Linked DNA regions of Homo sapiens. The protein of the gene in region 2 purifies or fractionates together with the protein of the main gene of each other region. This does not show direct contact. Each region holds a gene or a part of one and is shown on either strand. Other genes may lie near its edges.

Region 1 (4,062 bases), on a different chromosome or scaffold from region 2:
GGTTGCGGTGAGCCGAGATTGCGCCACTGCACTCCAGCCTGGGTGACAGAGCGAGACTCTGTCTCAAAAAAATAAAAAAAGAAAGTCGATTGTTTATGGATTAAAGAGTTAGATACATAGTTCGCAGCTGTAGAGCATCTAATAGGATATAACAGACTCACCATTATCTGGAGGAATGATACCGTCCTGAGCTTGAGGGTGAAGACAGAGATATTCAAGAACATAAAAGCTGAAAACGTCTGTGTTAAGACTCCTTTTGATCCAGGTTTCTGGACAGGAGAGTTTGCTGAGCATATGTGGAGGTGGCTCAGTACCCAGAGGCGGGTGGAGCTGGCCCCAGTCATGGCCTGTGCTCAGACGCTAGGACCAGAGCAATTTCTTCCTCATGTTTAAACTTTTCTCCTAGGCCACTGCCTTACCTTTCTCATGCTATAAACTGGCTTTCTCTGCCTCCTTGTTTATCCCTCCTAAGTTCAAAGAAGCAGTCAGCTGAGGAGGCTGCCTTTCCTCAGGCTGGCTCCAGCCCGGTTGGGAGGTGCCCGGATTAGCTGAGGCAGAGGTGGGGCTTGTGCAGAGAGCCTGGCTGCTGCCATGGAGACGGGAGGAAGCAGGCAAAAGAGCAGGCCTGCTGGCAAAGGATCAGAGGGCTGGGTAGGCGCAGGGATCAGTGTCCCGGAAATGTGAGGAAGGGCAAGTGCTGGCAGCAAAACAACATGGGCAATTTGGACTTCAGGAAAAGCTGCCACAAATACTCAGAAATAACACACATTTATAGACAAATAACGTGACTACAAGAAGAAAAAATTGTTCAAACTCTAAATTTTACAAGGCATATTTGTTTATTTTTTTGAGATGGAGTCTCACTCTGTCACCAGGCTGGAGTGCAGTGGCGTGATCTCGGCTCACTGCAGTCTCCACCTCCGGGTTCAAGCAATTCTCCTGTCTCAGCCTTCCAAGTAGCTGGGATTATAGGCACCCGCCCCCACACCTGGCTAATTTGTGTGTGTGTGTGTGTTTCGTAGACGGAGTTTCACCATGTTGACCAGGCTGGTCTCAAACTCCTGACCTCAAGTGATCTTCTCATCTCAGTCTCCCAAAGTGGTGGGATTACAGGCATGAGCCACCGCGCCCAGCCTACAGTGCATATGCAACAAGAAGTCATCATTTCATGCTTACTCAGTTCATGGGGGAATGTTTTCAGTCTTGAGACTCAGTGCTGGCGGAGTTACATCAAAGGTGGATGGCAGCAGAAAATCCTCAGCCCCTTTTCCAGAAGAATTTAGCTACACATATTTACATATACCCCAGGAAGCAGGCAAATGATGCTCATGAATCATCTCTAAGAATTCATGTGAGAGCCAGGCTTGGTGGCTCATACCTGTAATCCCACCACTTTGTGAGGCTGAGGTGGGTGGATCACTTGAGCCCAGGAGTTTGAGACCAGCCTGGGCAACATGGTAAAACCCTTTGTCTACAAAAAATTTAAAAATAAAAATAATTAAGGCCGGGTGCGGTGGCTCATGCCTGTAATCCCAGCACTTTGGGAGGCTGAGGCAGGCGGATCACCTGAGGTCAGGAGTTTGAGACCAGCCTGACCAACATGAAGAAACTCCATCTCTACTAAAAATACAAAATTAGCCAGTCGTGGTGATGCATGCCTGTAATCCCAGCTACTCAGGAGGCTGAGGCAGAAGAATCGCTTGAACCCCGGAGGCGGAAGTTGCACTGAACCGAGATTGCACCATTGCACTCCAGCCTGGGCAGCAAGAGTGAAACTCCATCTCAAAAAAAAAAAAAAAAAAAAAAAGCCAAGTTTGGCAGTATGTGTCTGTAGTCCCAACTACTCGGGAGGCTGAGGTGGGAGGATCACTTGAGCCCAGGGGGTGGAGGCTGCAGTGAGCCGAGATTGTGTCACTGCACTCCAGCCTGAGTGACAGAGCCAGACTGTCTCCAAAAAAAAAATTCATGTGGGGAAACATGGGAAGAGTTCAGCTGTGTGTTCCTTGCAGCACAATCTTTCATTGCAGAAGAATGGGAAGAATGGAAATGCCCAGTACTAGAAGAACGGATAAGGCTGTGGTGGCCTACGCACTTACTGGCCTTCACCGGAATATTCTGCAGCAGTGCAGAAAAATGAGTGATTGAATTTGAAGTGCAAGCAGCAGAATACTGTGATTTCAGTTCTGCCAGTCTCAAAATTAAATCTCATTTGTAAGGCAGGCAGTATTGTGGGAGAATTCCTCTAATGTATTTCATTCCCAGAGTGTTTATGCAGTGGCAGGAAGAGTACCATCAAGATGGGTTTAGTTTAAGTCAGTCTCCTAAGTATTTATGAAACACCCACTCGGTTTTCAGTAAGTGTGGTGAACTCGGTGTTTTGCCTCTTTCCCTGAACTTAGCGGTAGGTTCGGTATTAAGCTGCAGTGCTGCAGTGTGGATGGTGCCCTGCTTAGCAGATATTACAGTGCTTCTGCTGCTTGTTGAGCCTTGGCCTGGGGGTGTTTGAGCCAAATGCAAGGAGACCTGTCCTGAGGGACGCCCATGTCAATGGAGTCAGGTGGCAGCAGCTGGTACCCCTGCCTTTGGGATACTCCCGTGGTCACCCTAACAGCAGTGACCACAAGCAAGCACTTCTGTGCCAGCCGCGCCCCTCCTGCCACACTGACGGAGTGTAGCTTCATGAGGTGCGCGGTTGCTGTCACACACTAGAGAGGAAGAAACTGAGATGGAGGTAAGTCACAGCTCTGGGGCCACACAGCCAGGTGGGGACAGTCTTGGCCTCTGTCCATCCCAGATGAGGTCTCGCTATGTTGACCAGGCTGGCCTCAAGCAGTCTTCCTGCCTCAACCTCTGAGTACGGACACAGTTTTGAGCGCCCTATATGTGTATTAACAGTAACACATGAGACAGAGTAGGCCCTCTTTATCCGAGGGATACATTCCAAGACCCCCAGTGAATGCCTAAGACTGAGGCTAGTACCAAGCCCTGTATGTACACTAGGTTTTTCCCTACACGGTTGTCCCTCCCCTATGTCCTCAGTTCAACCAACCACAGATTGAAAAATATTGAAAACAATAAACATATAAACAATAAAATATTGAAAATAAAAAATACAATTTTTTCTTTTTAGATGGAGTCTCACTCTGTCACCCAGGCTGGAGTGCAGTGGCACGATCTCGGCTCACTGCAAACTCTGCCTCCTGGTTCAAGCGATTCTCCTGCCTCAGCCTTCTGAGTAGCTGGGACTACAGGTACACACCACCACACCTGACTAATTTTTGTATTTTTAGTAGAGGCAGGGTTTCACCATGTTGGCCAGGCTGGTCTCAAACTCCTGACCTCAGATGATCCACCCACCTCGGCCTCCCAAAGTTCTGGGATTATAGGCATGAGCCACCGCGCCCGGCCAAAAATAGAAAAATTTAGAAGTACAGCATAACGGCCGGGCACGGTGGCTCACGCCTGTAATCCTAGCACTTTGGGAGGCTGAGGCGGGCAGATCACCTGAGGTCAGGAGTTCGAGACCAGCCTGGCCAACAATGTGAAATCCCGTCTATACTAAAGACACAAAACTTAGCTGGACGTGGTGGCGTATGCCTGTAATCCCAGCTACTTGGGAGGCTGAGGCAGGAGAATCATCTGAACCTGGGAGATGGAGGCTGCAGTGAGCCGAGATCATGCCACTGCACTCTAGCCTGGGCAACAAAGCAAGACTCTGTCTCAAAAAAAAAAAAAAAAAAAGTACAGCATGACAACTGTTCATACAGCATTTACATTGTATTAGGTATCATAAGTAATCCAGGGATGACTTAAAGCATATGGGAGGATGCGAGTAGGTTATTTGCAAATATTTGGAGACAAAGCCTTGCTCTGCCACTCAGGCTGGAGTGCAGTGGCGCGATCGTGGCTCCCTGGAGCTTCAACCTCCCAGGCTCAAGCCATCCTCCTGCCTCAGCCTCCCAAGTTGCTGGGACTACAGGCACATGCCACCATGCCTCGCTAATTTAAAAAAAAATTTTTTTGTAGAATTTTTTTCTATGTTGCCTAGGTTTATTACAACAT
Region 2 (3,500 bases):
TTTAAAGTAAAAGGATACACTGTAATAGAAGCCAACCTCAAAAACTGCCAAGGGAACTTCTCTTTGTGGTTATACATGTCTTTCAGACTGCTCTGTTTTATACCAGGTTCTGTTGGGGTAGAAAAGGGGTCTCATTTTCCAAGACAAATACGTACTTTCATTCTGCTACCTAAACAAGGGATGAGCTGCCCTTAGCTGTCCATCATTAATGAGTTTGTATACAAATGATTAAATCTGTATTATAGAAAGACTATAATCAACATTAAAAAATTTATTTTAGGCCAGGCGCGGTGGCTCACGCCTGTAATCCCAGCACTTTGGGAGGCCGAGGCAGGCGGATCACGAGGTCAAGAGATAGAGACCATCCTGGCCAATATGGTGAAACCCCGTCTCTATTAAAAATATAAAAATTAGCTGGGCGTGGTGGCGGGCGCCTGTAGTCCCAGCTATGCAGGAGGCTGAAGCAGGAGAATCGCTTGAACCCAGGAAGCGGAGGTTGCAGTGAGCCGAGATCGCACCACTGCACTCCAGCCTGGGCGACAGAGCGAGACGCCATCTCAAAAGAAAAAAAATTATTTTAAACATGACTATTAGCAGTTTAGCCAAATCCAGACTATCCTTAAACAAATAAGGGCTCTTGTCTGAATGTGCACTCTTAAGTGAGGACTTTTGAAAAGCTCTTTTTCTCTAGCCTCCGGGGAGGCAACTCCAGCCTGCACATGCTGAGGCTCTCTTCAGGAGGAAACTGCCCGGAAGTGTGACAAGGGCCTCTAGCCCTCAGCAAGAACCTGGGCCCTAGGACAACACTGCACAACAGTGGTGACCAAGTTCTCCATGGCCTGGGACTGAACTGCCCATACCAGTCTCCTGTACTACCTGTCCCTAAGGCTGTAATACTTGGCCCTGACTCTGGCCCTGTCTGGGTCTTCCCAGAAAGAGAAGGTTCTTGTTGCTTGGTGCCAGGTTTGAGGAAGTTGAATAGAGTTCAGGCACCCCTGCCAGGGATGGGGGTGTCTCCATCAGACAGGCAGGTGGCTCAGTGCAGGGACCCAAGTGCTGAAGTGGGGCTACACCCTTGAGGAAGGGGGATACTCCCCATGCACAGCCTAGGAAGTCCCACACTGTCTTTCATGGTCTCCACCTCAAATGTCTGCACAATCACTATAAAGGTTTGAGGGAAATAAGAGGGAAGAGGACAGTTGCGTTAAGGGGGAGAGGGAATTGGGGTCAAGTCAGGTGAGCTCCAGGTGGAACTAAGGAAGAGGAACGTGACCGGGAGCAGGAGGGCTGGTGGTGTGCAGGTGTGCTCTGTGAAGGTCAACTATAAACCAGGATGAACACGCAGATGTCATCTAGCCCAGGGATGCCAAGCCCAGGCTTTAAACCCTCCCTTCCCTCATCCACTGCAAACCTCACCAAAGGACCCCAGCACTCTTTCCCACCAGGCTGCAGGCGCCTCAGTCTTCAAAATAACAGCCAGAGGACAAGGCTGCATCGCTCAGCTTACAAACCAAACAAAATCTTCCATTTCCTGATCTGTGCCAGTCCCTCCACTGTATGAAGGAGGACTCCTGAATGATAACAACAGCATACAGATCCCAAATTGAGCCCTCACCATGGTCCAGCACCTTACAAATAACAATTTGTTTCATCCTCACAATGACTCCAGGAGGGGAGAAGATTATTAGCCCCATGTGGGAGATGAGGAGACAGTGGCAGAAAGAGGCTGAGTTCAGCTGCGAAGGATGCACAGCTCATGAGCGGTGGGGTCGGGCTCCCCATCCAGGCAGCGCCGCCGGCTTCCTTGCTCACCACCGCTTTGCTGACACTGCCTCCCACATGGATGGGGCTCTGGTTTTAGGTTTATCACAGAACACACAAGCACATACGTTTTAGAATATGGTATTCGTAGATTCATTAAAATCTGACATTTACAGGATATTAAAACCATTCTAAGAGACAATCATGGTAAAGGTGTAATCGCATTTGTAAGCTTGCCAAATTGGAGTGTAAGAGCTTTTATGAAAAGTTTCAGAAATGTGGCTTACAGGGTAACGGTTTATGGTCAACTGCCTTTTGATCTCTCATGTGAAAAATATGTACTTACATATATTGCAGGAAACCTCACCACTTCCTTCCTAAGTGTCGGTCAAAAACACTAATTACTTGACTAATTAGACTGTGAAACTTCCCTTACACATGGTAAAAATGAGCTATTTTCACCCCACAAATTTAGTTGTGACATACCACCAAAAAAATGTAGGAATCTTTCAATAGTTTTACTATAGACAGTATGAACGATTTAAGCAAATCATATAAAAATAAATTAGAAACTAATGAAAATAATCTGCCCTTTCATAAGAGGGGAACACAGGAGGCTGGCTCGTGAGACGAAACCCCTTTGATGGGAGACTGGAGGCCAGCTCCAGATACCTTCTCCCCGCCCCATGAATTCGTTAGTCCTAGCTTCGTTTGTGATTTTCATCATAGCTTCAGGTACTTTCTTTATCCACCTGTAGTCACAGGTAGGCAGCACTGCTTCCTTTTTTTTCTCCCAGACATTCCCTATAAGGGAAAGTGTATGTCATGTGCACCCACCAGCCAGGATGACACGGTCTCTCTTTACTCTGCGTCCACAAAATTTCAGTCTGCCACATCAGCACATTTGCTAAAAGAATTAATGTGGGATGGAATGGAATCGAACCAAGTGCTACAGCTCAGGGAGGAAATGCCTCCTTGACCGAGTGTGCTCATATGAGACTCCACATCGCGGGACACTTACCAGCATCGAGGCTGCCCGTGGCCGCTGTCCAGCCCATGACAGGCGGGATGGCCCCAACCACAGCTCCGACCCATGTGTTGGCAATGCTGATCCTTTTCAGTGGTGTGTAGCAGCAGGTATACAGGAAAATGTTGAAGAGCCCCAGGGCTCCTGTGAGTGGATTCACCCCCAAGGTCAGAATGGCAACTCCCGGAACAGCACAACAAGTGGCAAAGGACACAGCTAGCAATGGGCTGGAAAAAGAGCAGAGAACCTGGAGTGATCATCTCCAACTCAACTCAATCACACTACCTAAAATCGGCACTGACAAAGTACAAATAATCCACCTATCCAGTAGAGGCAGTACTGATCTGGCTGATTCCTGGATATGGGGAATCCTCTTTATGAAACAAACTTATAATAAGAAAGAATATGTTTGTGGGAGCTCTGGCTGCTCTTCTTGATTTTGCTAGCTAAGAGTAAAGTGGTTAAGAGAGTCAGGATTAGAGTGTTCTGGATTCATATAGGTTCTGTCCCTTCCTGGCTATAGGGCAGCTAGGTTTCACTTACTCCTCTCTACAAGAGAAATGATCATCTTTTCCTCCTAGGGTTGAAGACTGACTGAGACAATGCCTCCTGCACAGTGTTCCATTTTATATTTAGTCATGAACAAACCACTTCAAACACAATATTGGAAGATTGGGCAGAAAATACTACCTGAATTCTGGAAGCTGTTCTT

The links. The genes of interacting proteins can lie anywhere in the genome.
Region 1: the proteins of COX10 (region 2) and COA8 purify together in Homo sapiens (affinity purification with mass spectrometry; one large-scale study listed by BioGRID and IntAct). This does not show direct contact.

Annotation. Positions count from the first base shown.
Region 1 is NC_000014.9:103,576,241-103,580,302, forward strand, and holds part of COA8 (cytochrome c oxidase assembly factor 8), read left to right. Parts: intron 1-4,062. UniProt on the Homo sapiens protein: Required for cytochrome c complex (COX) IV assembly and function Protects COX assembly from oxidation-induced degradation, COX being the terminal component of the mitochondrial respiratory chain.
Region 2 is NC_000017.11:14,191,504-14,195,003, reverse strand, and holds part of COX10 (protoheme IX farnesyltransferase, mitochondrial), read right to left. Parts: intron 3,016-3,500; coding exon 2,783-3,015; intron 1-2,782. UniProt on the Homo sapiens protein: Converts protoheme IX and farnesyl diphosphate to heme O.